2 linked regions of the Homo sapiens genome follow. The protein of the gene in region 2 interacts with the protein of the main gene of each other region in a biochemical or structural test. Each region holds a gene or a part of one and is shown on either strand. Other genes may lie near its edges. The genes, in order: PASK and KCNH2.

The links.
Region 1: of the proteins of KCNH2 (region 2) and PASK, one has a biochemical effect on the other in vitro, tested with the Homo sapiens proteins (one study listed by IntAct).

Annotation. Positions count from the first base shown.
Region 1 is NC_000002.12:241,142,926-241,146,729, reverse strand, and holds part of PASK (PAS domain-containing serine/threonine-protein kinase), read left to right. Parts: intron 1-3,655; coding exon of another isoform or gene 3,656-3,697; coding exon 3,698-3,804. UniProt on the Homo sapiens protein: Serine/threonine-protein kinase involved in energy homeostasis and protein translation. Phosphorylates EEF1A1, GYS1, PDX1 and RPS6.
Region 2 is NC_000007.14:150,975,969-150,979,872, forward strand, and holds the start of KCNH2 (voltage-gated inwardly rectifying potassium channel KCNH2), read right to left. Parts: upstream 2,354-3,904; 5' UTR 1,946-2,353; coding exon 1,870-1,945; intron 1,388-1,869; exon of another isoform or gene 877-1,387; intron 791-876; exon of another isoform or gene 776-790; coding exon of another isoform or gene 622-775; exon of another isoform or gene 568-621; intron 1-567.

The sequences.
Region 1 (3,804 bases), on a different chromosome or scaffold from region 2:
CTCTTATTTAAGAAGTAGTTTAATTACATAGGTGTGTTTCCCTGAACTACTTATTTAGATTATTTCATGACAAAGGAATCCTCCTGCTGATTGTCTTCCGTAACTTGATTTTTTCCACTCGTATATGGCTAAGATTCACCCTTGTGTGTAGTTTATTTGTTTTCACTGCTGTAATTAGTGGTATGAATATACCAGAATTTAAAATCTATCTTCTTGTTAAAGAGTGTTTGGGTTTCATTTCCTTTTTTCCTCCCTCTCTCCCGCACTCCCTCCCTTTCTTCCCTCCCTTTTTTCTGCCTGTCTCTTTGCCATTGAGAACCATATTGTCCCGAACATTCTGGTGTCTTCTTATCTGTTTGCAAAAATTTCTCTGAAATATAAATCTAAGTGAAAAGTGCTGTATCCATATAGACAAATGTTTCACTTGAATTGTTTTCTAAAGAGATTATATTAATGTATTAAGAGTTCCTGTTGATCCAAATCCTTTTTGACATTGGGTATTACTAGATTCTTCATTTCTGCTGACTTAGTAGGTATAACATCATCATGATTAGGATTTCCTCTCCTGTAAAACGCTTGTTCCTATTTCTTGACATTTTTTATTGGGCCATGTGTCTTTTAAAAATGTTTAAATTTTAAATAGTTGATCTTTTAAAGCTATTCTGGATATTAATTTTCTGTTGGTTATGTATGTGGCAAATATCTTCTCCCAAATTGTGGCTTGTTCTTTCGTTTTCTTTATGGTATTCTTTGTGAAGCTGTGTTCTCATTTTTTTTTTTCTTTTTTTTGGGGGGGACGGAGTCTCGCTGTGTCGCCAGGCTGGAGTGCAGTGGCGTGATCTCAGCTCATTGCAACCTCCACCTGCCAGGTTGTGTCGCCAGGCTGGAGGGCAGTGGTGTCATCTCGGCTCATTACAACCTCCACCTCCCAGGTTCAAGCGATTCTCCTGCCTCTGCCTCCAGAGTAGCTGGGAATACAGGTGTGTGCCACCATGCTCAGCTAATTTTTTTTTTTTTAGTAGAGATGGGGTTTCACCACATTGGTCAGGATGGTCTTGATCTCTTGACCTCGTGATCTGCTTGCCTCGGCCTCCCAAAGTGCTGGGATTACAGGTGTGATGTGTTCTCAATTTTAACGTTAAACTTATTAATCTTATTTTATAGCTAGAGTTTTTTGTGCCTTGTTTAAGAAAACTTTCCCTACCCCAAAGTCTTACAGATAGCCTCTTTTCTCCTAAAAACTTAGTGATTTTATTTTATATTTTATTTGGTTTGACAGGTCTCGCTTTGTTGCCTAGGCTGGCCTCCATCTCCCTGGGCTCAAGCAATTATCCTGCCTTAGCTTCTAGAGTGGCTCGGACTATAGGTGCAGGCCACGAGACCTGCCTGGCTAAAAAGTTTAGTGTTTTGACTTCCACAGATCAGATCTTTTATGCCCTGGGCACCATAGTGAGACCTCATCTCCTAGTTAAAAAAAAAGATGGCCATGTGAAGATACATACAAACAGGGAGAAGTCGGCCGGGCGCGGTGGCTCACGCCTGTAATCCCAGCAGTTTGGGAGGCCGCAGCAGGTGGATCACGAGGTCAGGAGATCGAGACCATCTTGGCTAACACGGTGAAACCCTGACTCTACTAAAAATACCAAAAATTAGCCAGGCGTGGTGGCGGCTGCCTGTAGTCCCAGCTACTCGGGAGGCTGAGGCAGGAGAATGGCGTGAACCCGGGAGGCGGAGGTTGCAGTGAGCCGAAGTCGCGCCACTGCACTCCACCCTGGGCGACACAGCGAGACTCTGTCTCAAAAAAAAGAAACAAACAAACAGGGAGAAGCTCTGTGATGGCGAAGGCGGAGACTGGAGTGACGCAGCTGCAGGTCAAGAACACCAAAGATGGCCAGTATGGCCAGTAGCCACCAGATGCTAGGATAAGGCAAGGAGGGGGGACTCCTTGGAGTTCCATATTGGAAGAGGTGGTGTTGGGAGGGCCACCTCCCCTTTCCTCTTCACCCCAGGCCTGCCTTGTCTTGGAAGGGCCTCGTGTGGGCATCCTGCTAGCTTGTCCAAGCTCGCTATTCCTGGAAGGCTGCTCCTCAGCCAGTTCACGGCTATAGGTGTGCCAGTGTGGGAGGACCTGGGTGGAAAGAGGCCTGTGTGTGTCTTAGAAGTGGGCACCAGACCCTTTGGCTGGGAACTCTGGGGTTCTGGATACCCAGAAGGTGGTCCAGAAGAGGGTATATGGGGTGTGGTTGGGCTTGCCTTGGCCCCAGGGTCTCCTCATTTCGTGGGGGAAACTCCAGCCATGGTTCTGGTATTGGCCACAGCCTCCTCTTGCTGTTTATCTAAAGCCTGGATGACCAGGTGGGGGCTTCCTGCCAGTAGAGGAAATCTTCTTGCTTTAAGGGCTCTTTTTGTTGAGTTTGGCCATGAGGACAGGGTATTGGTAAATGTGTACTTGTGTTTCAAGTGCTTGCCAATATGCAGGATGGAACTCTTAAGTATCTCCACTCTGCAGGGTGGTCACATGAATGTATACATGTGACAAGACTGCATGGAACACGTGCTCACATGCGCGCACACACACACGCTCATGTACACATGTGCACACGCACACACACGCACGGACACACACGCACACCCACACACACACACACCTGCAGGTAAATGCCTTGAAATCTGGACGAGGCTGATGGATGGTATCAAGTCAGTTTCCTGGCTGTGACACTCTCCTGTAAGATGTCACCATGAGAGGGAACTCGGAAGAGTATGTGAGATTTTCCTGTATTTCCACCCTGTATCAGCATTTGAATCATGTATAAGAGAAAAGCTAAAAATACAAATCTCTGGTGCCAGGCCTGTCTCTAGGAGACATGGCCTCTTGGCCATGGCCCCCGCGACCTCACTTGTTGGCAGCACCCAGGTGATTCTGTGCACAGCTGGTCGGATGGTCAGGACTCACTGTTTAGGGGAAAGCTGAGACCATGGGAGCTGTGCAGCCCCCACGTGCTGATGGGTTCATCATGACCTGGGAGTATTTTCAGTTGGTGTGTACCTGCAGTCCCTGCCTTCCCTCATGGCTCCTTCCCACCCTGTTCTTTGTTTTCCTCTCTCTCTCCTTCCCTCTTTCCCATATCTTCCTATGTATTTTTCTTGGAAAGAGCTTCTTTTTTTTTTTCTTTTTTTTTGACATGGAGTCTCTCTCTATCGCCCAGGCTGGAGTGCAGTGGTGTGATCTCGGCTCACTGCAAGCTCTGCCTCCCGGGTTCACACCATTCTTCTGCCTCAGCCTCCCGAGTAGCTGGGACTACAGGCACCCGCCACCATGCCCGGCTAATTTTTTGTATTTTTAGTGGAGACGGAGTTTCACAGTGTTAGTCAGGATGGTCTCGATCTCCTCGATCTCCTGACCTCGTGATCCGCCCTCCTCAGCCTCCCAAAGTGCTGGGATGACAGGCGTGCGCCACCGTGCCTGGCCCGGAAAGAGCTTCTTTTAGCACCACTTTGGGTGGACCATTCTCCCATTGCGGGTTCTGACCCAGGATGGCGGTTGGTGGTGTATGTCTTTTGGGGCCGAGCTGAACTCAGCATTATAAATTAGTTGGTTAAACTGTCTTTGTGTTTTTGCATTGCAGATGTTAATCAGCTTCATGTTGTTTTCTAGTTGTTAGAGTTGGAAGCTTGGCAGTTGGCCTCCCTTCTTCCCATGGAGGACGGGGGCTTAACAGCCTTTGAAGAGGACCAGAGATGCCTTTCCCAGAGCCTCCCCTTGCCAGTGTCAGCAGAGGGCCCAGCTGCACAGACCACTGCTGA
Region 2 (3,904 bases):
TCTGCCAGACTTGGCTCCCTGACTCCAGGCCTGCCCGGAGAGCCAGGCTGGCGAGTGAGCAGCAGGCAGGCAGCAGCCTCACTTGTGCCAGGCAAGATGCTCCTGGGATAAGAGCTTTTTATAAACAGAAGTTTCCGGCCACTTTGGCCTGTAATGCTGGGGCTTTCAGTAGCAGTTGGAATTCTCCCCCTCCCTTCCCCTCCCCTCCCCAGCAAGCATAGCCCTCAGGTTGCAGCCCTAGGCAATCCTACGTGCAAAGCTGGGCTGCAGCAGGGCACCCTGAGATAGGCCCAGGCCATCAGGACTTGGCCTCCTCCCACCTTTCTCGATTCTCCCTTCCCCTGGCCCCCAGAAAGTTGCCTTTTGGAACTGGTTCATCTTTTGGCCAGTTCCCAAGGCCCCCCAGACCTCCCAGGCAGCCATCAATTCCAGGAGTCAGGGTTTCCTGTCACCTGAAAAGACCCCCTAACTCGGCCTCCAGCTCTGCCACAGTCCAAGGCAGTCCAGAGGCCCAGCCACACACCCCAGCTTCATAGAAGAAAAACCACCCCTTGTCCTCTCTCCCAGGCTGGGGAAAGAAGAGCAAGTTTCTTCGAAGGCATGCCCCACCCCACCACACACCCTTCACTGAGATCCTGGAATACAGGGATGGGACAGAAAGCCTGCCCCTCCTCCACAGACCTGGAACCTGAGACCCAAAGAGGGAAGAGTCACTCAAGGTCACATGGCAGTCAGTGGCAAAGGTAGGGCTAGAATCCAGCACCCCCCCCCACATCCATCCCAGCCTCCTCGTAGGCCCGCCCACAGCCTCCCCCTGGGCCCACCCCCACCTCTCAGGGAGGCCCTCAACCAGTGTCATTGTCTCCACCCCCTCAGGATCATCTTGTTCCTCCGCTTCACACAATACTGACCATCGGACTGACCCCTCCTTCCCCCAACCACCGTTACAAGCACGCGTTGTCCTGTGCTCACAGGGTCATGGACAAGGAATGTCATCCTCTCCCAACTCCCAGGGCCCTTGGCAGTCACACCCACTGTGGCTCATGCAGCCTTAGGGACAGGCACATGAATGCTGCCCACCCCCAGGACATTTGCCTAATCTGGGACCCTTCTAGAAGCCTCCCTACCAGGCAGGCATTAGGGGTGCTGTACTCCCGGTCCCCATAAGGGAATTAGGTGACAGTCTCCAGGGCAAGAAAACCCACAACTTGGGGGTACCACAGGGAGCTGCTTACCCTCAAAGCCCAGCTCTAGCCCCAGGACACCCTGTCTCCACAGAGCCCACAAGCTCGCAGCCTTGTCAAAGACACCTCCCCACCGCCCATACAGGGTCTAACTCACGGGTGACACATGGGCTCAGGGTTATATACACACGGCACACACAAGAAGAGATTATGAGCTGACCCTGCATCCACGGCTTTTCAGTCCCTCCGGCACAACACAGTCAAGATCTGGCAAGACCAGTGTGCGCGCTGGACTCTCGGGATCCCAGGGTTTGGGTCGTACACACTCTTATGCCCTTGCACACAGCCCCATCCACGTCCACGCACCCAGAGTTGGGGACACCTGCACACTCCATCCCACATCCCTTCCCTGCACACTCAGCGTGTCACACACACTCCGATCCCAAAAGCCTGAGCTGAGTTTCCCGCCCCAAGCCCCAACCCCAAACCCTTTGGCCCGGTGCCCACGGCCCCGGTGCACCAAGCCTTGCCCCCGCCGTCCCCTCGCCAAAGCCTGGGGCCCACCAGGCCCCATTGACTCGCACTTGCCGACGCACACGGCCCGGGCACGCCCCCCCATCCACACTCGGAAGAGCTCGGCCCGCCCCCAGAGCCCCCTCCCCGCTCAGCCCCCTCCCCCACTCACTCTGGCCCTCAAACTTGCGGATGATGGTGTCCAGGAAGGTGTTCTGCGGCGCGACGTGGCCCCTCCGCACCGGCATCCTGAGCCCATGGGCGGGCCGGGCGGGCCCCCACCCACCCCGGCCCGGCCCGGCCCAGCACTAGGCTTCGGGTGGCCCGGCCGGGCCGTGGTCCCCGCACCCCGCGGCCAAGCCGAGCACGGGCGCGGCCAAGACTGGACTGCGGGCGCCGGGTCCTCGCTCGGCTCCCGGCTCCCCGCTCCGGACCCCGGGCCCGGCCTGGAGCCGCCTGAGCGCGAGCCGCCCGCCGCCGGCACACCTGTCTGCCGGCCCCCGCCGAGCCGCGGGGCCCGCTCCGCCGCGTCCCCGCGCTGCGCTCCGCCCGCCCGAGCCCCGGACTCCTGGCTCCCGCCTGCCACCGCGCCGACAGCCGCTCCAGCGCCCGCGGCTCGGGCAGCGCCTGCGGCTCGGCCCGGCCGCGGAAGGGTTAATGCGGCGCGCGCCCCTCCGGCTCCGGCCCCCGCCTCCCGGCCCCCTCCCGCCTGCCGCGCGCCCGCAGCACCGCCCTCTCCCCCCCCCATCCCGCCCCACCGCGCGCGCCCGACCTTCCCATTGGCTGAGCCGCGCCGAGTGCTCCCCCAACGCCAGCCCCTCGCTCTGCCAAGGAGCCCCTGGGACTCGCGCGCCCAGAAGAGGGGGAAGGGACCCTTAGGCAGGGGAAACCGTGAGGACAGGTGCCATGGCCGGCTTGTAGGCGGCCGGGATGGGGGAAGGGATTCCACCCCCACCCCAGATTAGCGACTAAGAAACCTGATTTGAAGGGAAACGGCGGGTCCTTATGCCCTGGTTCCCCACCACGCCGAGCACTGGCTTGGTATACACAGCACGCGCTCAGTGCCTACTGTGGGTGACCGGGGCAACGCCTGGACCCTCGAAGACGAGCCCGGAGTCAAGGGAGACCCTGGAAATAGGAAAAGCAAGACAATCTGAAGGCCCCAGAGCAGCAGAGCTCTGAAATAAGGGAGGGTTAAACTTAGAAGGGGCACGCCCCCTGCCCCAACACACACACACACACACACACACACACACACACACACATACACACACACACACACACACACACACACACACACATACACACACACACACGGAGAGAGAGAGAGCCCTCTGTGGGGCTCTGCATAGGAGCTGCACAGAGAGGGACATTCTGACAGCAGTTGCGGCCTCCTAGCTGCAGGATCAAAGAGAGGTCCCTGAGCGCGAGGTTCCAACCAGGGGATCCCCGGGTGCGAGCGGCCCGCCCTCCCCCGGCAGCCCGGGGCCAGCCTTGCACGCCCAATCGGCGGGCTCGGGGCCCTGCGGCGGCGGCCACGGCCCAGCCCCTCGGAAAGCCCTGGCCTAGCCGCAGGCCCCTCCCCCCGGCCAGCTGGCTCGCTCCAGCTGCGGCTCCCTTATTTAGGCAAGGAGGCCTAGGGATGCTCAAGGGCAGGCGGGGTGTCTGCCCCGCCGCCTGCTCATCGCCTGCTTGCGTCTGAGTGAGGGTCTCCGGGCGCGGTGTCCTCGGACTTAGCAGTCAGGCAGGGCCCCGGGAAGGCCAGGGCGGGGAGGCGAGTGTTGACAGCTGAGTGGGCGGGCGGGGAGGGAGGAGTCGCAGCTGAACAGCCGAGGGTCCCCTCCCTGCAGCCGGATCAGAGACCTGTCTAGATGGATGGGGCCATGTGGGGGCTCCTGAGGGCTTGCAGCTGCCTCTGTCCTTGGAGCAGGGGCTGGGTCTTGTCACCAGCGAGAACCATCATGGGGGGAGGGGAAGAACAAAGGGCAGGGAAGGAATCGGAGTCCCGAAGGAGGAAGGCGCAGAAAACTGTCGTCGTGAGACCACCCTACCCGGACTCTCACCTTCCACCCAGGAGCACAAAGATGCAAACACTGGGGCCAAATGGGGCCACTGGCCAGCAGATGACACTCTTTTTTATTTGCTGGTGGGTGGGCAGTGACTCAGGGAGGCAGCCAGTGGGAGAGAAGGAGGTGGCTCCACAGCTG